Linked DNA regions of Homo sapiens. The protein of the gene in region 4 purifies or fractionates together with the protein of the main gene of each other region. This does not show direct contact. Each region holds a gene or a part of one and is shown on either strand. Other genes may lie near its edges. The genes, in order: NMT2, PRIM2, AFG2B and PRPS2.

Region 1 (4,459 bases), on a different chromosome or scaffold from region 4:
GAATAGACATGAGCTTGGGAGAAAGACTTAATATTTAGAGAAAAAATATCAAAAATATAGAAAAAGTCAGATAAGGTTATTTTGACTGGGTACAGTTCACCCCCATTACGTGATTCACTTACCTCCTTGGAAATCTAACGTATAAAAGGTATGATGGTAATTGGATGAAATGTGGCCAAAAGATTAAAAAAACTGAGGAGCTTGGGTTCTCAGAGGTGGGTGTGTGACAAGAGTCCTTCAGGTTAGGAGATGGAGCATAACCGATGCTCTGTTAGAGTGTCTGCTGTTTACAGTGTGTATGGAAAAGTTACTTTCTGTAATTTAGAAGGAAGGTATTTACTAAAGATTTTTCCAGCTGAAAGTCTGGCTGACTCATGGATTATGCCATCTCTCGATTTAAATTTTACTTAGTGCCATCTTGGCCAAAAAGAAGAAAAAAAGATACCTTATTGAATAGAACATTTTCATTATAGACAAAGTACAGTACAATGCAGTTTTAAATCTACAAGAAACTATCCATTGCATTTCAATTTAGTTTTAATAGCTACTTCATAAGCAAGCAGTTTAATTCTCGAAAATGTTAATTAGTAATCTGCTTCAATTATGGAGGCAAATGTAGTTATTATTCTATTTAAAAGTGGTTAATAATTTGATAACAAATTATGTAAATGACTCTTTAAAGGAGCAGTGTAACTGTCACCGTGAGGTAAGCTCATGACAAAGTTTCCAACTGGCAATGCTGCAGTTATTTATTTTACTTTCGAGATAGAGTCTCACTCTGTTGCCCAGGCTGGAGTGCAGTGGTGTGATCCCGGCTCACTGCAACCCCGCCTCCTGGGTTCAAGCGATTCTCCTGCCTCAGCCTCCTGAATAGCTGGGATTACAGGTGCACACCCCCATGTCCGGCTAGTTTTTGTAATTTTAGTAGAGATAGGGCTTCACCATGTTGGCCAGGCTGGTCTCAAGACTCCTGACCTCAAGTGATCTGCTCACCTTGGCCTCCCAAAGTGCAGGGATTACAGGTGTGAGCCACCGTGCCTGGCTGATTCTGCAATTATTTGAAAACCTACTTTGTATAGACTTTGTGGCATGAAAATGAGTGGGAAGTAAAGTCCTAAATTAGAGCCTTGACTCCAGGTTAAGTCAAAATCTCATTTACTTAATGCTGGTATCTCAAACCCTGTTCCAGTGAATGAGGACTGTTTTGTTTCTTGAAGCCTTTCTCCTGTTAAGAAAGAACGCTAATGCAATTAGGGTGGAACCATCTGAAATTCCAAGTCTTCCATTATCTCCAAGAGAGGTCCTATATTATGTACTACTGTGGGGCCCAGTCGCCCTCTGGTGGTAGTCTCAGGGATGTCACAGCTGTGGGTTGGTCTTTAGAATCACGGCAACCTATAGAAAGGAGAGTTCCAACTCCTTCGTAGTGACCAAGGTCAACAAACTTTCTGTAAAAGACCAGAGAGTGAATATCTTAGGCTTTGCAGGCCACACAATCTGTCACAACAACTCAACTCAGCTTTGTAGTGTGAAGCAGCCATAGGCAATATGTAAATGAAAGTGGCTGTGGCCAAGAGTGGTGGCTCATGTCTATAATCCCAGTACTTTGGGAGGCCAAGGCAGAAGGATCACTTGAGGCCAGGAGTTAAAGACCAGCACGGGAAACATAGCAAGACCTTGTCTCTACAAAAAATGAAAAACTTAGCCAGGCGTGGTGGTATGCACGCCCAGCTAGTTCTTTTTCTTCAAAAAGACGCTGAAGCAGGAGGATCATTTTAACCCAGGAGTTTGGGGCTGCAGTGAGCTGTTGACTGTGCCACTGTATTCTAGCCTGGACAATAGAGTGAGACCCTGTCCTAAAAAAAAAAAAAAAAAAAGTATGGCTATGTTCCAATAAAACCTTATTGAGGGACACCGGAATTTGAATTTTGTGTAATTTGCACATGTCACAAAATGATGTCATTTTTTGGCTTTTTCTCCTCAACCATTCCAGAAAATAAAAACATTCTTAGCCTGTGGGCTACACAAAAATAAGCAATGGGCTGGATTTAGCCCACAGGCCATAGTTTGGTGGCCCCTGCCTGGGATAAGATATGATTGGTTTCACTGGACTCATAACTTGAAGGAAATGCCATCATGTCTAAAACAATTAACTTCTGCACTGAACTTCCTAGGCACTGGCCCAGTAAAAGCAGGGAAAAGTATCTACTTTTGTTTTTTGAGACGGAGTCTTGCACTGTCACCCAGGCTGGAGTGCAGTGGCACGATCTTGGCTCACTGCAACTTCCGCCTCCTGGGTTCAAGTGATTCTCCTGCCTCAGCCTCCTAGCAGCTGGGATTACAGGCACCCGCCACCACACCCAGCTAGTTCTTTTTGAATTTTTAGTAGAGATGGGGTTTCACCATGTTGGCCAGGCTGGTCTCGAACCCCTGACCTCAAATGTTTCGCCCGCCTTGGCCTCCCAAAGTGCTGGGATTACAGGCGTGAGCCACCACACCCAGCCAAGGCATCTACTTTGTGGTATCTGAGTTGAGGCCAGGCTACGTGGCCTCGGTTAGCATCTTATTTTTCCCGCAGATTATTGGCAATATAAACACACATCTGTAAGCCATGAAAGTTTTTCAAATTCTAGATTAAAAACACCATCAGTAACAAAATTATGAATACTTATTTACAAATAAGACATTTTCCATTAGCATGACACATGACAGTTTTCATGATAAAATCAGCATAGAGGAGTATGTGCAATTTTGCATAAGTAATAAAAACATTCAAACTATCAATGCCCTGATAGCACGAATAAGTTCCACCAGGCATCTCTTTTGACTTTACAGTTTTTTATTTCCTTTTCTTCATATATCCTTGATGTTGCTGAGAAGAAACTGAACTTTGCACAACAGCAGAAAAGTCTAGTTAGTCGCGGGTACAGGCTCTTTCTTTTTTTTTTTTTTTGAGACGGAGTCTCACGCTCTGTCACCCAGGCTGGAGTGCAGTGGCTCGATCTCGGCTCACTGCAACCTCACCTCTCAGGTTCAAGCGATTCTCCTGCCTCAGCCTCCCAAGCAGCTGGGACTACAGGCACACGCCACCACGCCCGGCTAATTTTTGTATTTTTAGTAGAGATGGGGTTTCACTATGTTGGCCAGAATGGTCTCGATCTCCTGACCTCATGATCTGCCCACCTTGGCCTCCCAAAGTGCTGGGATTACAGGCGTGAGCCACCACGCCCGGCCTCAGGCTCTTTCAGAGAGCACAGTGAGTGCTTGCACAAAACTCTGCTTTTGAAGCAATCCACTGACCTGGTAAAGATCAAAGTACAAACTTGCATGTTTATTGATTCGGCAACTCTGCTTATGGAGAAATACATGTACTAGTCACCAGTACATTTTAATATTGCTCTGCACTTAAACAACCACCACCTGTCACTGAGCTACAGAAGTGTTGATTCCATAAATGTTCCCAGTGATACCATGTAAGGTGATACCAGTAAAAAAAATTTCCAAATGGATCTTTTGTTCTGTTACATGGACAAATGTACCATCACTTAAGAAACAGAAATGCAGCAATTTCTCTCCACACAATAGCAAAGATTTTCTTACATGACTCTGTAACTTCTACTTAGTCCATAGAAAAACAGTCCCTTTTCTAAGGGTGAAAAAATACCTCTTCAAGAGACAGGCAAAAATTTGAAAATTACAAGAATGTGCTCTTTGTAGCCTTTCATCCCTCCCACAAATAGGTCAACAGTAAAAAAAGGATGAAGTTTAACATTCTAGCTAGAAACGTACAAATGTCACATGTGGACTTTTGTCATCTTTTCTGATTATCGACTACTTCAATTTCACTTGAGTTGTGCTTTTATTCTTCTTTGGAATGGCAGTTCCAGAAATCATTAAATATTAACAAATGATGATGTCAGAGTTCTAGAAATAAAAATATCCATCTATTGTAGTACTAGTCCAACCTGAAGGGAGGGAAGAAATGGAATAGTAAGAAAAATTAGATTGCAATGTAGTACAATAGATCTGTCTTTCTAAAAGCTGTCTTAAGGCTCAGCTCACACCTGTAATCCCGGCACTTTGGGAGGCCAAGGCAGGCGGATCACCTGAGGTCAGGAGTTTGAGACCAGCCTGGCCAACATGGTCAAACCCCATCTCTACTAAAAATGAAAAAATTAGCCAGGCATGGTGGTGGATGTAATCCCAGCTACTCGGGAGGCTGAGGCAGGAGAATCACTTGAACCTGGGAGGCGGAGGTTGCAGTGAGCTGAGATCATGCCATTGCACTCCAGCCTGGGGGACAGAGCGAGACTTCATCTCAAAAAAATAAATAAATAAATAAATAAAATGAACAAAAATAAAATAAAGCTGTCTTAAGTCTAAGTGAAGCAAGTATGAAATTGTCTAGGTACATTTGTTGAGTTTACAAGGGCTATATCCATTTCACTTACCTTTTCAG
Region 2 (7,035 bases), on a different chromosome or scaffold from region 4:
TTGAGTGTCACTTGTGGGAAAGATATTATATTAGGCACTGGGCTTTTATAAAGACTAATGTATCATTAGCCTGAAGGTTCTTCAGTGTATTAGGGGTGATTGACATGAAGTCAGATGATTATAATATGGCAGGGTTTCTCAACCTCAGGACTAACATCATTTTGGGTCTGATAATTCCTTGTTGCAGGGATTGTTCTGTGCACTGTAGGATGCTCAGTAGCATCTCTGGCTTCTACCCCTACATATTTCCAGACATGCCAAATGTATCCCGTGCAATACAGGATGATGACTGTGTTTATAGATGCATGCTCCAGGAACTCCAAAAACATACATAATTATGCAGCTCAGATTGGGGAGGTTTGGGAAGGCTTTCCAGAAGAGGTAGTAGTGGAGCTGCATGTTGACAGATGTGATTAGATTTTCATTTTGGGAAGATGACTGCCAGCAGCAGATTGACAGGGTCATGTCTGTTAGGAGGGAAACCAGTTAGAAGCCCGGAAATGATGAGAGTCTGAATTAAATGAGAGAAGGGGACCGGTTGAAGAGACATTAAGAAGGTAGAATCAAAAGGTTTTAGTGACTGATTGTAGGGGGAATGGAGAGAGAAGAGTTATAAATGACACCCAGGTTTCTAGTTAGGAAAATTAGTGGATGGTGGTAATATTTTGAGATGTGATATGCAGGAGGAGAAGCAAGTCTTGGAAGACGTAGAGTTTAGTTCTTAACATGAATTTGAGGTGCCTGTGGAGATGTCTAGTGGACAATTGGATATACAGGTCTGAATATACAGGAAGACATGTGGTGGGAGTAGATTTAGCAGAAGGTTGGAATCATCAGGAGTAGGTAAGAGCACCCTAGAAAAATATTTGAGTGAGAAGAGATGACAGTGGAAGTTAAGACATGAGGAATACCAATATTGAAGGTAAAGTGGAATTGGAGGAATTTGGGAAGGAGAATGGAAAGGAGCTTTCTCAGAAGTAGGAGATGAACCAGGATAGTAGTGTCATAGAAGCCAAGGAGGGCTAGAGTTTCAATAATAATGATCATGATATTAATAATGATAATAGGGAATAACAGCAGATATTTATATTAATAGTATGTTTGCTATGTACCAGATTTTGTTCTAAGTGCATTACATATATTAACCCATGTATGTAATTCATACAGCAGTCTTATGAGGTGGGTATTATTATCATCCCTATTTTACAGATACAGCCTATTTATTCACAGACTGAATAACTTGCCCAAGCTCATAAGATGGTAAATGGTGGAGCCAAGATTTGAATCTGGGTATTTTGTTTCTGTAGTGGTGCTTTTAACCACAATAGTTTCAGAAGCTTAAGATAGATTATGTAAGATGAATTGTACAGTGTCCATTGGATTTAGCAGCTGGATGGGCCCTTATAGATAGGGGCAGAGACCAGAACAATGACAGTGGTTGGAGAAGGAAGGTGGAGCGGTGGATATAGAAGATGTACTTTTTTAAAATGTGTAGCTGAAAAGAGAAGAGAAATAGGGCAGAATATAGGGGTTGTTTTAGGGAAAAGAGAAGATATACAAGCACACACTTGTACATATATGACAGGAGATACTTAAACATGTTTATAAGCTGAGCAGAAGATCTAGAATAGAATGGGGAAGAGGGGAGCTTGAAGTTGAAACTTTGAGAGAGCATTTGATAAGTCAGGGTCTTTAAGAGGCACAAGCAAATGGGTTGCGGGGTTTAGGTGCAGGAATTAGCTTTTCATATGGTTTGGCTGTGTCCCCACCCAAATCTCATCTTGAATTGTAGTTCCCATAATCCCCATGTGTCATGGGAGGGACCCGGTGGGAGGTAATTGAATCATGGGGGTGGTTACCCCCATGCTGCTATTCTAGATAGTGAGTTCTCACAAGATCTGATGGTTTTATAAGGGGCTTTTCCCTATTTTGCTCAGCACTTCTCCTTACTGCCACCATGTGAAGAAGGACGTGTTTGTTTCCCCTTCTGCCATGATTGTAAGTTTCCTGAGGTCTCCCCAGCCCTGGGGAACTGTGAGTCAGTTAAACCTCTTTCCTTTTATGGGTTTACTCAGTCTTGGGTATGTCTTTATTAGCAGCATGAGAATGGACTAATGTAGCTTTACATGCCAGGAAGAGGAGATGCTTTGTAGAGATGTATGGAAGGCAACACAACATGTGTATGCGGAAGCTTGGGACTGAAGGATTCTGCCTGGTAGCCTTTATTTTCTGTAAAGTAGGTGAAGTCATCTGTTCAGAGAGAAGGGAAAGGTGCTATAGTAGGGGTCTTGGGACAACTGGTGAAGACTGACGATTTTCTGAGAAGTGAGGAAGGAGATGATTTTGTGTCGAATCTCAACACTGCTGCTTACTCTGGACAAGCTTTGTGACCCTGAACAAGTTACATAACTTCTCTGTGCCTCAGTTTCCTTATCTGTAAAATAAGATTATAGTAGTGCCTCCCTCATAGGGTTTTTTTTTTTTTAAAGGATTAAATGGGTTCATGCCTTAAAAATTCTTAGGGCACCGCCTGGTACCTAGTGAGTGCTCAAGACATGTTTGTTCTTATTATTTTGGATCCAACTGTTGGTAAGGATCTAGTTGAGATTATAGGCCACGAAATTATATTTTCCAAATTCCCATAGTTGTGTTTTTTCTCCAGAGGTTCTTAGCATTTTGAGAATAGGACTGCAGAGTGTAGTTGTAGATTAAGAATCTAGGTTTTGCCAAATGGTTGAAATTAAAGAAGCTGAGGTTGGTGTAAGAAGTGGTTGAGGTGGTGAGCACCTTGGATATAGGCTGGATAAGAAGAAAATTAAAAGAGAGGGGTTGGTGGGAAGAAAATAGTGCGGTCCAAACTCAAGGGGTTTTGTCAAGATTAGTTTACTTCTCGGTTTCATCTGATTGATAGCTTAAGGTAAATGATAATTATCCTGAAAAGCATATTAAGAAATGTTTTGGCAATGAGAACACATGGACACAGGGAGGGGAACACCCCACACCAGGGCCTGTCAGGGGGTTGGGGTCAAGGGGAGAGACAGCATTAGGACAAATACCTAATGCATGTGGGGCTTAAAACCTAGATGACGGGCAGCAAACCACCATGGCACACGTATACCTATGTAACAAACCTGCACATTCTGCACATGTATCCCAGAACTTAAAGTAAAAAGGAAAAAAAAAAAAGAAATGTTTTGGGACTGGGTGTGGTGGCTCATGCCTGTAATTCTAGTGCTTTGAGGGACTAGAGTAGGAGTCTTGAAACCAGGAGTTCATAACCAGCCTAGGCAACATATTGAGACTCCATCATACAGAAGATAAAAAATTAGCGGGGCATGGTGGGTGTCGCTTGTAGTCCCAGCTGCTTGGGAGGTTGAGGCTGGAGGATCACTTGAGCCCAGGAGTTTGAAGTTACAGTGAGCTGTGATTGACCACTACTCTCCAGTCTGGGTGGTAGAGCAAGACCCCATCTCTAAAAAAAGAAATGTTTTTGAAACTTACTTTACCATTGGCTTAGGCTGGCTCAGTATTTCCTTACACCTCTTACCATTCTAATGCATTTATTTTATTCATGTGTCATTATTTTTAAGGAAAACTTAGAAGATGAATATGAACCACGAAGAAGAGATCATATTTCTCATTTTATTTTGCGGCTTGCTTATTGCCAGTCGTAAGTATATGTTTATATTCTCACAGTCAAATCTGGTGTCATGGGTTATAAATTGGTGTGTGGTAAGTTGATGTGTTGTGCTAAACATAGGAAAACCCAGAATAACATCAGGAGCCGGTTGATCATGGGGTTGAACACTGACAGTAAATTGTTTGGAAGAAATTGTTTACTTAAAAATATTGAAAAAAATTCTATCGCAGAATTTTGCCTGATGAAACACTTCTTAAGTTTGTGAGATAGACTCTTCATTTGGGATTTTAAATTGGAAAGGATTTTATTGGGAAGAAGGACTTTTGATATTTTTCCTGCAAAAAAATGGTAATATTTATAAGAAACAATTAATGAAACCCACACTTGAATTTGATACAGGTTTTTGGAATTTGAGCTCTATGGGCCAGTTAAATCGAAGATATTTTTGTTTGGTAGTTGGTTTCTTTTAAGTTAATAGTGCCACCCAGAGGTAGTAAAGTTAGTTGCTTTTTTAAAAATTGTTTTTCCCTCACATGTTAATTTTGGTCACATAATTTAGTTATGGCTGTCTTTTTTTAAAATTAATAAGCTTATCAAGTGAGACTCTGGAATTGCTTACTATCCCAAGATAATAATTGAGAAATTACTTACCAGTTTTGGTTCTAGAGTTTTTCTTCTGTAAAAAAGCATATGTAGTTTGTGAAATTTATATAATAAATATGTTGCTGACAATCTGTGAAAATCTCCTAAAAATGTGAAATCATATTTTGCATCCAGTAGGGTAATTATTTTATTATATAACGATAATGCCCATTAGTATCTGCCTTATAAATGAACGTTATTGCTTTTAAATATTGTGGTATATATGTGCATATTAAATTTTGTGAAATTATCAATTATAAAGCCATAAGCAAAGTTTCCTTTGCAAAGTTAATCTGATCAAAGTTGCCTTAAAAAATTTGGTGTCTTTTATTTGGCATTTATAAAGACACCTCAAGCCAAAGGAGTGCCCCATTTCCCCATTTTCTTTTTTTTTTCTCTTTTCTCTCTCTCTCTTTTTTTTTTTTGAGCTAGGGTCTCATGCCATTACCTAGGCTGGAGTACAGTGGTGTGATCTCGGCTCACTGCAGCCTCAACATCCGTGGGCTCAGGTGATCCTCCCACCTCAGCCTCCTGAGGAGCTGGGACTATAGGCACATGCTACCATGCCTGGCTAATTTTTTTGTAGATATGGGGTTTTACCAACTTGCCCAGGCTGGTCTCAAACTTCTGGGCTCGAGCAATCTGCCTGCCTTGACCTCCCAAGGTGCTGGGATTACGGGCATGAACCACGACGCCCAGCCCCTATTTTCTAACATAAAATGAATATTTTGCAGTTACATTAAATGCATGAAGTATTTTATGTTATTTAAAAATAATGCAGCTAGTCTCGAAGCATTCTTGTATTTAATCTTTTTAATTTTTAACACCCCCTATACCTTGTACCCAACCCATCCTTAGAAGATTGTGATATGTGGTATTGATATTCTCCTTACCGTGATAGAGGACTTGCATGTTTTTAACTGCTGTCCATTGGCATCTTGCTGATGTTTGAATATTGTTTTATAAACATTTCTTAGATTTAATAATTACTGGATTTTTAGTTTGTACTCATAATTTCTGTCTTCATTTCAGTGAAGAACTTAGACGCTGGTTCATTCAACAAGAAATGGATCTCCTTCGATTTAGATTTAGTATTTTACCCAAGGATAAAATTCAGGATTTCTTAAAGGATAGCCAATTGCAGTTTGAGGCTGTAAGTATATTTTTGTAGTTATTTCTAATTGTTCTCACCATTCATTTTTCCCTTCTGTCTTAAGTGCTGGTACTAATGTGTAGTGTGTTCTCTTTACATTCTCCAAGTACCTGCCTGAAACAGTAGCTAATAGCTTTGGATAACAATATATCTTTCCTTCTCTATGACTAGAAGAAAAGGACTCCTTAATAACAAAGTCTCACACTTACTTGCTCTGTTAAATGTGTGCTTTATTAAAGCACAAGAAGGTTTAGTTTATAAAGGTTCATCTTTAACCAAAATTTTGTCGGCCAAAATAAAGCTAATAATGTGTTAAACTAGACAAGTGGTAGTTTCTTATTTATAGTCGTGAAATTTAGAGGAGGTAATACTTTATTTAAAAGTCAGTTGTCAGGCGGGGCGTGGTGCCTCACACCTGTAATCCCAGCACTTTGGGAGTCTGTGGTGGGCAGATCACTTGAGGTCAAAAGTGCGAGACCATCTTGACCAACATAGTGAAACCCCCACTCTACAAAAAATACAAAAATTAGCCAGGCATGGTGCTGCGCGTCCATAATTCCAGCTAGTCAGGAGGCTAAGGCATGAAAATTGCTTGAACCCGGGAGGTGGAGGTTGCAATGAGCTGAGATCATGCCGCTGCACTCTAGTCTGGGCGAAAGAGCAAGACTCCGTCTCAAAAAAAAAATAAAAACCATAAATCAAAAATGTCAGTAAGATCTGTATGAATAGTTTTAAAAAATAATTTTGCAGACATATCTGAATGATTTACATATTGTAATTATATAAAAAAAGAAGAGATCTTTGGGACTCATTTAATGGGGATGAGTATTGGAAATAGAATTTGTATCTTTTTTTTTTTTTTTTTTTTTTTTTTGAGATGGAGCCTCACTCTGTCATCCAGGCTGGAATATGCAGTGGCCTGATCTCGGCTCACTGCAACCTCCACCTTCTGGGTTCAAGCGATTCTCCTGCCTCAGCCTCCTGAGTAGCTGTGACTACAGGTGTGTGCCACCATGCCTGGCTAATTTTTGTATTTTTAGAGACGTAGTTTTGCCATGTTGGCCAGGGTGGTCTTGAACCCCCTGACCTCAGGTGATACACCCGCCTCGGCCTCCCAAAGTGCTGGGATTACAGGTGTGAGCCACCGTGCCGGGCCTAGAATTTATGTCTTTTAGGTAGATATATGCCACAATGGGAATGTAGAAACATTATGTTTTGGAAGTTTTAGAGCAGTCAGATGGTAGTAGGACTGGCAGAGACTCTATTTTGTTGTTGGAATGCGTGGCTTAAAGCCAAATAAAATAAAAAAGTAGAAGTTGCAATAGGTGAAAGACATTGTCCTGTCTGACAAGTAGAAGACATATCCACTGTAGCAAGGAACACTATGGAGTATATGAGTTAGGGAAAAGAGACTGTGAAGGGAAGTGAACAAACATTTTGTAGACGTTTAGTGTCAAATATATGCTAGGTAGGCAGTTTCTATAGTTTCTTTCATTTACTTCATGAGGTTTCTAAGTCACATCTACCTTTGCATAGACAGATGTCATGCATGGTACCATCTGAACCAAACCCACTGCATCTTCCACTTTGCTTTTAACTT
Region 3 (7,030 bases), on a different chromosome or scaffold from region 4:
CTTTCTTTGTTTAAGTGTGGGAGTCCCAATGACCACCTATATGCAAAGCAAAACAAAAAAAAGAAGAAGAAGTATATAGTTTAAAATATATTATTTTTAAAGTTGATCTCATGGATGGAGGTAGACAGCAGAATGATAGCAACCAGACACTGGGAAGGGTTGGGGGTGAGGGGATGAAGACAGGTTGGCTCATGGGTACAAACATACAGTTAGGTAGAAGGAATATGTGTAATGTTTGATAGTGTAGTAGGGTGACTATAGTTAACAATAATTTCTCGTATATTTCAAAATAGCTACTAGAGAGAATCTGAAATATTCCCAACACTCAGATAAGAAATGATAAATGTTTGAGGTGATGGATATCCTAAGCACCCTGATTTGATAATTACAAATTGTATGCATGTACCAAAATATCACATGTACCCCAAAACATGCACAATTATGTATCAATAAAAATAGATCAATTAAAAAAGAATTACTTCCAAAAAAATTTTATATATGTGTGTGTATACATATATATATTTTTTTTTTCTTTTTTTTTTTTTTTTGAGACACAGTTTCACTCTGCTGCCCAGTCTGGAGTGCAGCGGGCACCATCTCAGCTCACTGCAACCTCCACCTCCTGGTTCAAGTGATTCTGGTGCCTCAGCCTCCAGAGTAGCTAGAACTACAGGCATGTGCCACCATGCCCGGCTTATTTTTTGTATTTTTAGCAGAGACGGGGTTTCACCATCTTGGCCAGGCTGGTCTCGAACTCCTGACCTCAGGTGATCCACCCACCTCAGCCTCCCAAAGTATTGAGATTGCAGGCGTGAGCCACCGCGCCCGGCCAAAATAATAATATGTTTTTTATCCTGACAAACATGTACGACAATTTAGTGAACCACTTTGGAACTAGTACCGTGCACTTTACGTATACTTTAGATTCTGAATATACGAAAATCCTAATATTCCAGAGGAGTAACACTGGCTAGAAAGTTGCACAATGAAAATTCTATGTCATTTAACAAGTTTTTGTTATTTTTAAGAACACACAAAGTTCTAGAAGCCAGGTATAGATAGCTAGGTCCCTGCCCTTAAGGACACAGGTACTAGATAGTGCAAGGAAGAAATCCACTCAAGTCCTGAACTAACTGAGCTAAAAGTGTGTAATTATCATTTCTCTTTTGAATCCTATCACAAAATAGAAATATCAGTCACTAAATTTCAAACTGTTCTTTAGAATTCAAGTCAATTTAGGACCAAAGCTTAAAATAGGACAGCTCTGAATATTCAACCTCCCTGACAACTCAGGGAGCAGTTGTGGGTACCTCCTCAATTGTGGAATAGGATGCTGGTGTTATGACAAGGAATGAATAAATCCAGAAGAGTTAATGCCTGCTTCCATTTAGTTCTTCCCCACCTTCTCCCTTTTTATTTCAACACACTTACTTCTTGAGGCTATCCTTCTTTAAATTCTCATTCCAAAAAATGAGTTTAACACGCTTGTAGGTGACCAAAATTCTCTTAAGAATTAACATTACTGATTATAGGACCTGCACAACAAAATTAATCTGTAATGGACACCTCGCTTCCCAAAACAATTAGACTCTGGGGAAACAGGTCCTGACTCTCAGATCCTGACTCACAGGTCCTGACAATTTGACTCTGGGGAAATACAGGTCCTGACTCACAGATCATATATCGGCAGAGAACGTGTTCTCTGCATTGCAAAGAGCCCCAACTCCAACCTCACCGATGCTCAAACCTAAGAGGCAAACGCCTCCGGGGCAGCCAAATGGCGCCAGAAGCGGCCGAGGTTCCACCGACAGTGGGCAAACCCGCCAAGCCCATTCACCTCTCGGTCAAATCTCCCGGGCCTACGCAGCGCTGGGTCTAGAGCGTCCGGCCGGTTAGTGGCTCCCACAACCACGACCTCGCGGTCCCCACTGGCGCCGTCCAGCAGCGTCAACACCTGGGCCACTACGCGGCTCTCGGGTGCTCGACTGCCCCGCTGGGGACACAAGGCGTCCATCTCGTCCAGGAAGAGGAGGCTGGGTCCGCGGCTGGCCAGTTCCCGGGCGCGCTGGAAGACCCGCCGCACGTTCTCCTCGGTCTCCCCAGGCCGGGAACCCTGCAGCGCCGGGGCGCTGACTGCCAGCAGCTCCGCGCCCGCCTCGCGCGCCACGGCCCGCACCAGCTGGGTCTTGCCCACTCCGGGGGGCCCCGCCAGGAGCACCCCGCGAGGCACCGCTAAGCCCAGCGCGGTCAGGGCGCGCGGGTAGCGGAGCGGGAGGCGGAGGAGCTCCCGCAGCGAGTCGGCCGCCTCCGAAAGACCTCCCAGGGGCACCTCGGGCTGCGGCTGGGCTTCCGACGGAGGCTCCCCGCCAAGGCTGACGCGGGTACGAGGGGTGACCAGCCCAGCGGGATCGGGACTGGGCGTCCCGCCGACGATGTGCAAGGCAGCCACCAGGCCAGGAGCGCCTGGCGGAGCGACCACCACGTGGCCCAGGGAGATCGGTCGGTTTCTCAGCAGCTCCTGTGCCGCCTCCAGCACCGCGGCTGTATTCCGGGCACCGGGCGCGCCTGCCCGCTCTCGCAACACCGGCCACACGGCGACGCGCCGCAGGGGCGGACAGGGCACTAGGAGGAGGCGATTCAGGCTGAGACTCCTCCGGGATCTCGACGCCCCGACCGCCGCCCCGGGGCTCGCGCACAGCGGGTCCAGCTGCACAAAGCCGTCCGCTCCGTCCCGCCGAGGCCAGGCAGTGCAGAGGCAGGAGCCGCCGTCGGGTAGCGAGATCTTCACTGCCGAGCCCAAGCGCGCGCCCAGGGCGTGGAGGGCGGCCGGGCCCAGGCGGCAGCGCTGGGTGCCCCGGTCTCTAGCGTCTAAGGGTAGCAGCTTTAAGAGCGGCCCTTCAGGGAAGGGATCCGAGTCCGGAGCCATCGCACACAGATGAACCAGGCAGACGAAACCAGATTAGGAAACCCACCCGGCCCACAAAAAGCGGAACACCGAGCTCGCAGGCCGGAAGCAGATTGCGCGCATGCGCTAGGGCAGACTGCGTTGCTAGCAGCTGAGTGAAGGCCGAAAGGGCCAATGGAAACGTTAGACGACGCTCGGGCCTCTGGGTAGAGCGTTGGTGTCCGCTTTCGTGAAATCGAGTTGCCTAACCCAGAGCTTTCCCGAGATGGTCTTCGTTACAGGTGTCTGGGAGGCGGCTTAAGCTCACTTCACTAGGTCATTAAGCATGTACTTTGGTGGTTACATATATCTTGGAAGTCACCGGCTTTACATTCTGTTTTCCTGGCCTTCGAACTGGAGCATCAGTACTACCGCCGTTGGAATAGCAACCTAGAGACTTTGCTATTTTGTGAAGAAACTCTAACTATCCGCATGGGCACAGAATTTTGGGTGCTCTGGTGCAAATGTCTCAGGTGACTTGGCGTAACTGAGAATACAGCCTTGGGACCTTCGGTAATCGGGGTTCCAATCTGGGAGGTCCAGGCACAACCCTTCCTATGGGAAAGTACCAGCATAGTGGGAGGGAAGCACACGGTAGCGCTTAAAATCCCTTGTAGAGAGGAAAGAAGGAAAACTAGGCTACCTGATGGATTTGTAGCACACCAACAGTACATTTGTTCTGATTTCTGATATTCTTTTGAATATTCTTTGGCAACAAGTTAATCACTAAAGTTCATGCGATCAATGCTTACTGTCTAATTGGGGCACAACAGTACTAAGTCCTGTATTAGAGGCGATACCTATCTACGTTATTAAGACAACTGCCTGCTATTTTTTTTTTCCAGCTGCTTTCTGCCTTTCCCTTTCGCACAGGGAATTCCTTTTTATCAGCTGGAATACATTTTCTATCCCTCTTAATTGCCGTTAAAAAAGAACTACAGATACTCAAAGACAAGAAGATATACCTTGTTTTTATTTGACTTACATCTTCCTACCTCTATTTTCCCCACTTTCACTGCAACCCAAATTTGTGAGTTGACAAAACTGATATTTTAGAGTGCTTAAGTTGCTGGGAAGTTTTTTTTTTCTATCTATGCAAATAATCAATTACAGACTGTGTAGTAATATCTTATCAATGGGAAGTACTGTCAGATCTGGGATCTTAAGACCCATGCCAGTTCCTGATCTCATTCTGTCCAAACTTCATGGCAGACATGACAGACTTCTTGACTTGACAGTAACTTACCTGGTCTCAGCTGTACTTGTCTGCTTAAATCGATTCTGGAACAATTTAGGAATCAGAAAATAGCAGGAGGAGGTCTTGAAATGGATAAGTCACCCATTACTTCCTGTTTTCTTTTTTCCTCTTAATCCCATTGGCTTCAGTTCTTTTTGGTTTGGGGACTTTTAAATAACAGCTTTGCATTTTTTGAAATAAAAAAAAAGCCATCGTTTTTACCGACCCCTAAAGGTGTGAATTACATGCCTATCAAGTTATTTTATCAGAAGCCTGTACCTCATCGAGTTCCTTCTATTCAGCTCCAAGAAGCTTTAAGGATCTGGGAGAGGGAAAGAAGACTTACTGAGGACAGGATAACTGTCTTAAATATGTAAAGGGATCTCATGTAAAAGAGTTAGTAGATTTACTTATATTTACAGTGCAGAAATGGCCAAGAAGTAAAGGTTTAATGGAGTGGAATAACCAAAGCCAAAACAGGGAGCCAATAAAGTTAAATCGGCCTCAAAATTTTCTGAATTGGTTTAAAACAGAGGCACAAACTATGCTATTAGGAATATGATGAGAAGGAAACTACATGTTGCTTTTGGTTGGTCTAAGAGGTTGATTTTATACAAGGTCAAACAAGAACCCTCTGACCTTATAGAATCCATATGCACAGGAAATATTATTTCACTTCACTCTTTCTCTAAAAGATCCAGTCTTTACCATAGGTTGCAAACAAAAGCAACAAGGAATTCTGTTACTGGGCCTTCAGCTCTTATCCACTCACTCTGAGCAAAACTATAAATGTCTTTCCCAATCATCCAGTAAAATCCATTCTGTCCCTTTAGGTCTAACCATTTGCAACACTATGATTTCAGCCATCTGAACATCCATATTTATCATGCCATTCAATGACATAATCTCCTTGTGATAAACCATTCTTTTTATTTTTAAAATTTTATTTATTTTTTAGACAGTCTTGCTCTGTCACCCAGTCTTGAGTGCAATGGCAGGATCTCAGCTCACTGCAACATCTGTTTCCCAAGTTCAAGCAATTCTCCTGCCTCAGGCTCCCAAGTAGCTGGGATTACAGGTGCCTACCACCACGCCTGGCTAACTTTTGGATTTTTAGTAGAGATAGGGTTTTACCCTGTTGGCCAGGCTGGTCTCGAACTCCAGGCCTCAAGTGATCCACCTGCCTCAGCCTCCCAAAGTGCTGAGATTACAGGCATGAGCCACTGCACCTGGCCTCCTTGTGGTAAACCATTCTAATGGGAGTTGTGTGGCTCTTTTGCTTAGTTGTTTTTAATCTGACCAGAAATTTGTTAATTCTATGAATTGAAGAACATCAATTAAAGCACTAGAATTGAACCACTAGAGGGAGTCCAGAACCAACTAAGCCTGAAGGCTACAGGATTGTTAGGACGTTGGTGTTCTCAACTGTGGTTTCCACTCAATTTTCCCAGGATTCACACCTAGGTGTATGAAGCCATCTGTTGTCTCTATATATTATCTGGCTTAGTCTGTTCAGGCTGCTGTAACAAAATACTACGAACGAGGTAGCTTATAAATGACAGCAATTTATTTTTTACAGTTCTGGAGGCTGGGAAGTCAAAGACAAGGCACTGGCAGATTCCATGACTGGTAAGGGCCCCCTGTCTAGAGACAGCTCATTGTACCTGCACATGGTGGAAGGGACTAGCTAGCTCCCTCATGTTTCTTTTATAAGCACACTAATCCCATTCATGAGGGCTCCACTCTCGTGACCTAATCACCTCCCAAAAGGCCCTGACTCCTACTACCATCATCTCAAGGGTTAAAATTTCAACAAATGAATTTTGTGGAGGACACAAACACTGAGACCCTAGCAGTAACTGACTTATTTTCACATAATTTTTCACAAGCCTCAAGCTGTGTAAAACTCAGTTTCTAAGTTAAAATTTAATTTTTGTGTTAAGTATAAAAATGAGACTGTTCCTAAATCCAAAATTTAGTGGTAGGTCAAAATCCAAACCGATGGAATTCATCTTGCTATAGCCTAGAAACATTTCTAGCTTTAAATTGTTTCAAATAGCTTTGCCAAACAAAATCTTTTGTGAGATTTTCCCGAAAAGGTACATGTGACAAATGGTTTCTCTTTATGTCCTTTGTTACATTCAAGGTTACAATCTGTCTAATTTTTAATTAACTATAAAAATTCTTAATTAACTGTAAGTCTATAATTCAAAAGAAATAATTGGAATCTGTTTCTTTAGGATAATGATCATGCAATATTTTTGTCCCTTCAGCATATTATATATGTATATAAAAATATATTCCTGTATATGAAAAAAATCTAAAGAAAATGGTTAAACCAGTAGCATGAGTCATCTGTAGATTAAATAATGTTAATCTTTCCAGCATTTCCATTTTTGTGTTATGTTCAACCCTAATATATTTGAACATTAGCAATGACTATGAGTTGTAATAGATGAATAGAGATTTGTTTAGCCACCCTTGAAAAAGCATGATTTGCAAACACTTTCATCTCAACATGCTCATGTAGATGTAGTAAGTGACTTATTTCCACGGATAGCTAATATGCCGAACCTGTGTTCATAAAGTATGTAATGAAAATCCCCCTAAATGGGACATTGTTAAAATTGTTCTTTAGAATCTTCCATCTTTACTTTTTATCTTGTATCCAGGTTAGAATTAGTCTTTAGAGTAATTCTAGATATAGAATAAGTTATAGAATCAGAAGAAGGAGGATGAAAATATTTGCTGGATTTCAAATGACCTGCAGACTACAGTTCATAGAACATCATTCTGAAAGTCTGTTCTTGCACATTTTCAGGAAATTGCTTGATTCATCATTTTTTAGA
Region 4 (7,171 bases):
AGAAAAAAAAGAAAAGAAAACAAGAAAAGAAAAAGAAAAGAAAAAAGAGAAGAAAAAAAGAAAAAAAGAAAAGAAAAAGAGTTTTATAGTTTTAGCTCTTGCATTTAGGTCTTTGATCAATTTTAAATTAACGTTTGCATACGGTGTGATGTCTTTATCTTTTTACAGATATATGCAGGCTAAATAATTTAGAGGTGAATATATAACATCTGTAATTTACTTTAAAATACTTTAGATAAAAACAGATAAAGCAAACATGGGAAAATTTTGACAGCTACAAAATCTAGGTGGTGGGTATATCGGTGTTCACTCTATTTTCATCTCGGTTTTTGGATTTTTCTTTAAACAACAGAAGTAAAAGGTAAAGTTCTAGAAATAAAAATCAGAAAAATTACTTGATTCTGAGTGAAAATGTTATTAATAGAGAATTAAAGTTGAATCTATTTTAACTTATTTTTAAAGTACATTGCTTATAAATGTTAGCATTTCATAATAAGTTATAAATTATTTGCCACACCCCTAATAAAAACATACAAGAAAAAGGTTATGTCAGAGTGTCTTGGCATTGCTCTTAGGAACTAGTGTTCTAGAACTTCTTGTTCTAATACAGCAACTATCAGCCACATGTGGCTGATGAGCACTTCAGATATGGCAAGTCCAAATTAAGATGTGCTGTAAGCGTAAAATCTATATTGGATTTTGAAGGCTTGACACAAAAAGATGCAAAGTAGCTCATTAATATGTTTTATGTTGATTACATGTTGGAATGATAATATTTTGGATATTGGATTAAAGTGTATTATTAAAATTACCTTCACTTGTTTTTTATATTCTTTTAAAATACAGCTACTAAAGTGTAAATTACATATGTGGCTTGCATTATATTTCTTTTTAAAAAGTTTAAAATTTTTTCATAGAAACATATAGGAAACAATCATTACATTTCTTTTGGATGGTACCATTCTAGAGAGAAAAGGACTGGACTAGAAGATCCACATTCTAATTCCTTTGCTGCTTTCAACTAGCCATGTGACTTGGGGAAATTTCTTCCGTTTCTCAGCCCTAAAATAGTCAGGGATAAATTCACTCAGCAAATACTTAGACTTCTTACTATATACAAAGAACTTGGCTAGATGATGTGGGAAATAGAAGACGTGAAACTGTTCATAAATTCAAATCATTGTTTTACCGTTAATCTCTATCCATGAGTCAATGAAGATAGAAATCAACAATAGAAAATATCTCATCATTTTAATTTTTTCCACTAACATTTTATCTTAAGATAATGTATATTTTATAAACGGTCTGAGACCCAGATCACATATGCACAGAGTATATGTTCTTTTTCTCTTCTAAGTCTTGGGTCTTTGAACAAGTGTTCCATTTTTCCAGAGGCTCCCCAACTTCAAATGTTGTTCAAGAAGTGCACTGTGGTAGACAGTTGGTGGACAGTACTCATGCCCTCCAGTTGTCCCATACCATGTTGACAGCTGGTCTTGGCCATGTAACTTGCTTTGGTCAATGAGACATTAGCAAGCAAGTTAAAAACAGAGGTTTGATAAGCACTTGCTCATTGAGACTTATCTTCTTGGAACACTCCTTGGAACCTTGCAGCCATGCCGTAAGGAAGCCCAAACAACCATGAAGAAAGGCCCACATGGAGGAGAGAAGGGCCAGGGGTTCTTTCAAACTAGTGATTCTCAACCTGTGGTGATTTTGCTCCTTGTAGGACATTTGGCAATGTCTGGGGACACTTTTGGTTGTCACAGTGGTGGATAGGTGCTACTGGCATCTAGTGGGTAGAGGCAAGGGAGGCTGCTAAACAATCTGCAATGCACAGGACAGTCCCACAACAAAGAATTACCCAGCCTAAATATCAGCTGTGCTGAGGTTCAGAAACCTGCTCTAGACCAATGTTTCCCACAACCTGGCTCCTATGGATCAAGGATAAAGGCATTTGGGAGAGAAAGTTTTCACACTTAAATAAAATTATCTGTAGCTGCTCATTTACAAGTGACAGCTTTCTGAACAGTCTGTGACTCATGATGATTTTTCAATGATTCCCATTAGTATTCTCATCAACCCCAATGGCACATTTCACCTTGTTTACATTTAGCATTTAAGCAGAGTAACTCATCAAACTATTGAACCAACAATCATTGTATTAGTTGCCCCAACTGAGATATTGTTTCTCCTTGGTGCTATCAAGTCCATGGTTTGTCACAATTCAATCCGAGCTTCCAAATCTGCAGCCATTTACCCACCCAAAGACCAGGGGCTTTAACTTTTACTGTTTTATAGTCCATCAGCTTTGGTTCTGTGTTACCAAAGAACCACAGCCCCATCATGCTAAGAGGATGCCACTTTCCCTTTGAGAAGAGCATCTATATATTTAGAAGAAACCATTATTAGTCAATTTTATCTATGAGAGAAATATTAAGAATATAAAAATTATAGTAATTTGCTGATAGTAAATTTTATTAGAAGAGTTTAAATATAACTACATTAGCAGACTCAATAAAAATTTTAAACATAGTGGGTCAAGTATAAATCTCATTGCTATGGTAATTAGCTGTGAAATACATAGATAATAAACCATTGCAGATAGGGGTTTTTGTTTGTTTTCTCACATAATAGGGCACATATGCATCTCTAGGCGGAATGAAAAAGGGCCAGAAATGCTGCTAAAATTGTCAGTTTGAATAACTTTTTGATAGGCTGGCAGATACAAAAGTTTACAAGAAACACTCGATGTGCCAAGTAATCTCCTTGCAAAGTACAAGGACCCAGATGAAAAATCCCAATGATGCGAATCATCCCTGTAATCTCCCAAATCCCATTATGAAGTCTGATTAGAGTAGGCTACAACCCAATTGCAAGTGGGCTTTGCTGTTGATGGAGAGCCAATTCGTGGCAAACATTAGTAAAACCAAGCCATTTATCTACCCGGTTGAATCAGCCTTTGTTGAGGAGTGTGAAACTGTGACCAGCATCACCAACCAGCCCTCTATAGACAGGGACTGCTTTCCTTTCTCCTACACTTGGTTTGTGCCCTGAAGTTGGCTCTGGTACTGCATTGGCATCTTGAGAAAACCTTTTTGCTGGTTTCTAGCAGGAAAGAGAGGAAGGAGGCCCTGACTCCAGGGATGTGGAGGGACTGAGCTGGATTGTCTAGGGAGATCTGTGTTCCTGGGATCAGGCCCTTGAGCACCCAACAGGCAGAAGGTTGTGAAGTGCCCCAAGGACCATCACATCTACCGAAAAATGGTGAATCTGGGGGACTTGGTTTGATCCAGTGAGCCACCAAGAGCAATACTTCCCCTCAGCCTGTGATGAGGACTCACATAGTGGTTGGATTTTTTAAGGACACATGGTGCAGGGGCAACTCTGTAGTTCAGGGGTCATCAAGTTTGAACTATGAGGGACCACATGGCCAATATTTACATTTTGCAGACCAAGCAAGAAAAGGGAAGATATTACGTAGGAACTTACATAACAAGAGAGAAAAAATTGTCACAATGTTTTTATTGATATAATCCAAAATACGGTAATATTTGAGTACAATTATTTGCAACTCACATCTATTAATGAGAGAAAAGGAATTCTTTTGCGGGGGGGATATTTCTCTTAATTGGAGTTCAAAGGCGGTGTCTGCTATCATCACATAAAGTGCAAATGTTCATGTATGAAAACCATGCTTAGCTCTCTGGTACAAACACAGGGAGCTCTCGCGATCTGGCCCATAGGCTGTAGTTTGCAGACCCTTGCTATAGCTGAACACCAGTCGCCCACACTGGGTTTGCGGTGTTCCGGGGTGGGAAGTCGCTCCGGGCTGCGAAGCACCTCGAGGGATCCCCCCGGCCCGAACTCTCCCTCTGTGCCCAGCTAACCGCGGTTCATTGGCTCTCCCCGCGAGGCAGGTCTGGAAGATCAAGAATGAAGCTCGGAGCTCTCTCGCGGAGCAAGGACACCTTCGGGCTTCAGGACCACCCAGGGCGTCCAAAACTGCTGCCAGGGCTGTGCCCCCGCCCCCCGGCACTTTCCAGCTCCCCCTCCACGCCCGCTCTTCCTCCCTCTCTGCCCCCTCTAGCTCCTCCTCCGGCTCCTCCCCCTCCGCTCCTCCCCTTCCCTACATCTAGCCGCCGCGCTTTCCCGCTCCCGCAGCAGCAGCCTCCCGCGTCGCTGTCGCTGTTGCCTCCGCCACCTCCTCCGCCGCCGCGCGCCCCTCGGAGTTCCGCGCCCCACCATGCCCAACATCGTGCTGTTCAGCGGCAGCTCGCATCAGGACCTGTCCCAGCGCGTGGCCGACCGCCTGGGCCTGGAGCTGGGCAAGGTGGTCACGAAGAAGTTCAGCAACCAGGAGACCAGGTGGGGGCCGCGCCGGCGGCCGGGCTAGGGAGAGCGCTGGGCACGCGGCTGCGGGGCCGGGTTGGGGGCCGGCGCCTGCCCGGGCCACCTCCGCGGACGCCGCGCTCCCCCTTCCGGGGCGGGACGGTGGCAACGCGGCCTCCGCGCCCCCGCGCCCGCGCCTGCGAAGAAACCGAGGCGGGGCGCCGCGCGTCCCGATGCGCGCCTCGGCTGTGCCCCCGGTTGCAGGGCCTCCGGTCCTGGGACCGCGGCGACCCGGCGGTCCCGAGCCGCTCCCGGCCTCCCAGCGGTGCCGCCCGGCCTGGCGTCCCCAGCCCGGAAGGGAGACGTCTGGGCGGTCACAGACCGTCGGGGAGAGAGTGGGCGCAGCGGGCGGGAACCGCATCGGGTCAGCGCGCGGTGGAGAGACGTCCTGGGTTGGCTGGTCCCAGTTTCCGCGTCCCTACAAAGCTGAACCTCAGACCAGTGCGTGCGACTAAAGGTTTCCCCCCGTCCCCAACTCTGGTTGCACGCTGGGTTTACCTGGGGACGGTCCGAACGCTGCTTCCCCCGACCTGCCCCCAAGGGTTTGATCCAACGGGCGGAGGATCAGCGATTTTACAAGCTTCCCTGGCTTCTCCTGAGCAGCCAGGGCGCAGACCACTGCGTTATCCAGAGGGTGCAGTTGTGCCAAGGTTTGAAAGACTGTGAGAACCCCAGGACGCACGTGCTGGGCTCCCCTCTGCTCCCACTACTCTTGCTGCTTTAAAGATGATGGACTTTCAGCTTCCTTCTTGTTCTAGGACTCTGCTGTGTCCAGCAACAACGCCGTGATTCGACTGTAACTTTCACCCATTTCTCAAGTCCAGGAGAGCCTCAGGTGGTGGCCATCCTCGGAAGCTGACCTGGGGGGCTCCTTTGTCTATCTGCCTGAGTCCACACAGCTCCTTGACTCATTTCAAATTGGTCTCATTTTTCCCCCTTCTTCCTCCAATGTCTAGTACCGTTAACTGTCCACAGTTACTGATAATTTTTATATCTTTGGCAAAGGTTCAATTTTACCAACATTTTCTAGAAATGGTGTTGGAACAGTTGGACACCCATATGCCAAAAAATATGAACTTCCATCCATACTTTTCACCATTTGTAAAAATTAACTTTGAAGTGGATCATAGACCTAATTGTAAAATCTAGAACTATAAAATTTCTAGCAGAAAATCTTGACTTGGGGTTAGGCAAAAATTTCTTAAGGAGGAGTTATGTTAATACTGATGGGGAAGATGCTATATTTTGGCAAGTCAGCTTTTTAGGATATGTGAATCTTACGTGACTTCTTCCAGGTGGCAAATTCCAGTTATGGCTCCGATGATAATATAAGCGAAGAAACATTGTGAATGAGTGGCAGGTGGACTTTGGCTAAAGAATTCCACTCTGCAGTGTTTAATGCAGAAGTCTGAGAGGATGGTCTAGGGCTCTGGAGAAGGATAGAGCTAGGTTTGAGTGTTGCAGTATTTTGCCAGTCTTGTTCAAGTTTCAGTCGCTGTAAGAACACGAGAAGAAGAATAGTTTTTGTTCAGAAGGTGTCGTCATATAAGTAAAGGAGAAATTTGTTGATGAAGTAAATTTTGAAAGCAAATATGTTGCCCTTCCAGGTACTCAGTGCAGCATGATCTTTTGCTAAGGAGCATGGTTAATCTAGATCAGTTCACTGCTAAGTCAGTGTTGAGTTTCTCCTAAAAATACCACATGTGCCACTGGGCAAAACTCACTCAGACACTGAAGTATGATTGTTTATACATTTGGTTCAAATATAAAGCAGACTCACTTTTATTTTGTTTTTGGCATTTTATAACCATCACTTGATAATTAGAAATCGTGGGACCTCAAAAACCACTCAGCATGAAGTTTGGGAATTGCCTATATAGCTACATTTTATGTTTTTAATGTATAGAGTATAAAAGGTTCACTGCCTGACTTTTCTCTTTTCCATGAACTGTACAAGTACAGAGCTTAATTTTTATAAACAGCCCTCTCTGGACCAGTTACTGTGCTAGGAATCCAGCTTTTAGCTGTGTAATCGTAGAGAGGAAAAACTGAAGGGCAAAATGAAGACAAAATTGATTCAGTTCATGTAAGGGCCCCTTCTTGAATCTGTCACTGAACTAGGATCAGAAATCTGGTTTGCTGTCTCCTGGCCATCAATCCTCCCATTTTGCGTTTTTTATATGCTACTTTACTGAACATAGAGCCTTCCAATTTTACCTTCTTATCCCTAAATCATTTCAGATATGCAGGGAGAGGTCCGCTCCAGCTTCACTATAGACCATGGAAATTCCATGATGACATCTTAGGACAGCAGGTGTCTAGATGTCTCTGTTGTAACATTTTACTATGGTCAGTTAACCTGCTGGCAGAATCTTTAGCTATACTGTGAGACAAGGTTATGCAAAGTTATACAAGGTTATCGGTTACCATGTAATAAATAAAGAGCTTAATGGCTTAAAACAGTAATTGTTGATTTGGCTTACAAATCTGCAATTTGGGAAGGGCTCAGTGAAGAAAGCTTGTTTTTGCCGCGTATGGTCACAGCTGAGGCTGGTCACAGCTGAGGCGGCTAACTGGGGCTGGAGGGTTCTTGAAGATGGCTCACATGACTGAAGTTGTTACTAGCTTTTGCCTGGGAGCTTGGTTAGGAACCTCAGCTCCTCTTCTTGTAGGCCTCTCCATGGGGCTGCTTGAGCTTCCTTACAGCATGGAAGCTGGGTTCTAAGAGCACATGTTCCAAAAGACAGGACATTGAAGCCACCAGTCCATTAAGGACTGG

Evidence for each region.
Region 1: the proteins of PRPS2 (region 4) and NMT2 purify together in Homo sapiens (affinity purification with mass spectrometry; 3 studies listed by BioGRID and IntAct, with this or other methods). This does not show direct contact.
Region 2: the proteins of PRPS2 (region 4) and PRIM2 purify together in Homo sapiens (affinity purification with mass spectrometry; 3 studies listed by BioGRID and IntAct, with this or other methods). This does not show direct contact.
Region 3: the proteins of PRPS2 (region 4) and AFG2B purify together in Homo sapiens (affinity purification with mass spectrometry; 2 studies listed by BioGRID and IntAct, with this or other methods). This does not show direct contact.

Annotation. Positions count from the first base shown.
Region 1 is NC_000010.11:15,105,251-15,109,709, forward strand, and holds the end of NMT2 (glycylpeptide N-tetradecanoyltransferase 2), read right to left. Parts: coding exon 4,452-4,459; intron 3,966-4,451; coding exon 3,945-3,965; 3' UTR 1,449-3,944; coding exon of another isoform or gene 1,437-1,448; 3' UTR 520-1,436; downstream 1-519.
Region 2 is NC_000006.12:57,320,611-57,327,645, forward strand, and holds part of PRIM2 (DNA primase large subunit), read left to right. Parts: intron 1-3,590; coding exon 3,591-3,670; intron 3,671-5,314; coding exon 5,315-5,435; coding exon of another isoform or gene 5,436-5,453; exon of another isoform or gene 5,454-5,757; intron 5,758-7,035. UniProt on the Homo sapiens protein: Regulatory subunit of the DNA primase complex and component of the DNA polymerase alpha complex (also known as the alpha DNA polymerase-primase complex) which play an essential role in the initiation of DNA synthesis.
Region 3 is NC_000015.10:45,398,326-45,405,355, reverse strand, and holds the start of AFG2B (ATPase family gene 2 protein homolog B), read right to left. Parts: upstream 3,021-7,030; 5' UTR 2,927-3,020; coding exon 1,838-2,926; intron 37-1,837; coding exon 1-36. UniProt on the Homo sapiens protein: ATP-dependent chaperone part of the 55LCC heterohexameric ATPase complex which is chromatin-associated and promotes replisome proteostasis to maintain replication fork progression and genome stability.
Region 4 is NC_000023.11:12,787,252-12,794,422, forward strand, and holds the start of PRPS2 (ribose-phosphate pyrophosphokinase 2), read left to right. Parts: upstream 1-4,160; 5' UTR 4,161-4,246; coding exon 4,247-4,368; intron 4,369-7,171. UniProt on the Homo sapiens protein: Catalyzes the synthesis of phosphoribosylpyrophosphate (PRPP) that is essential for nucleotide synthesis.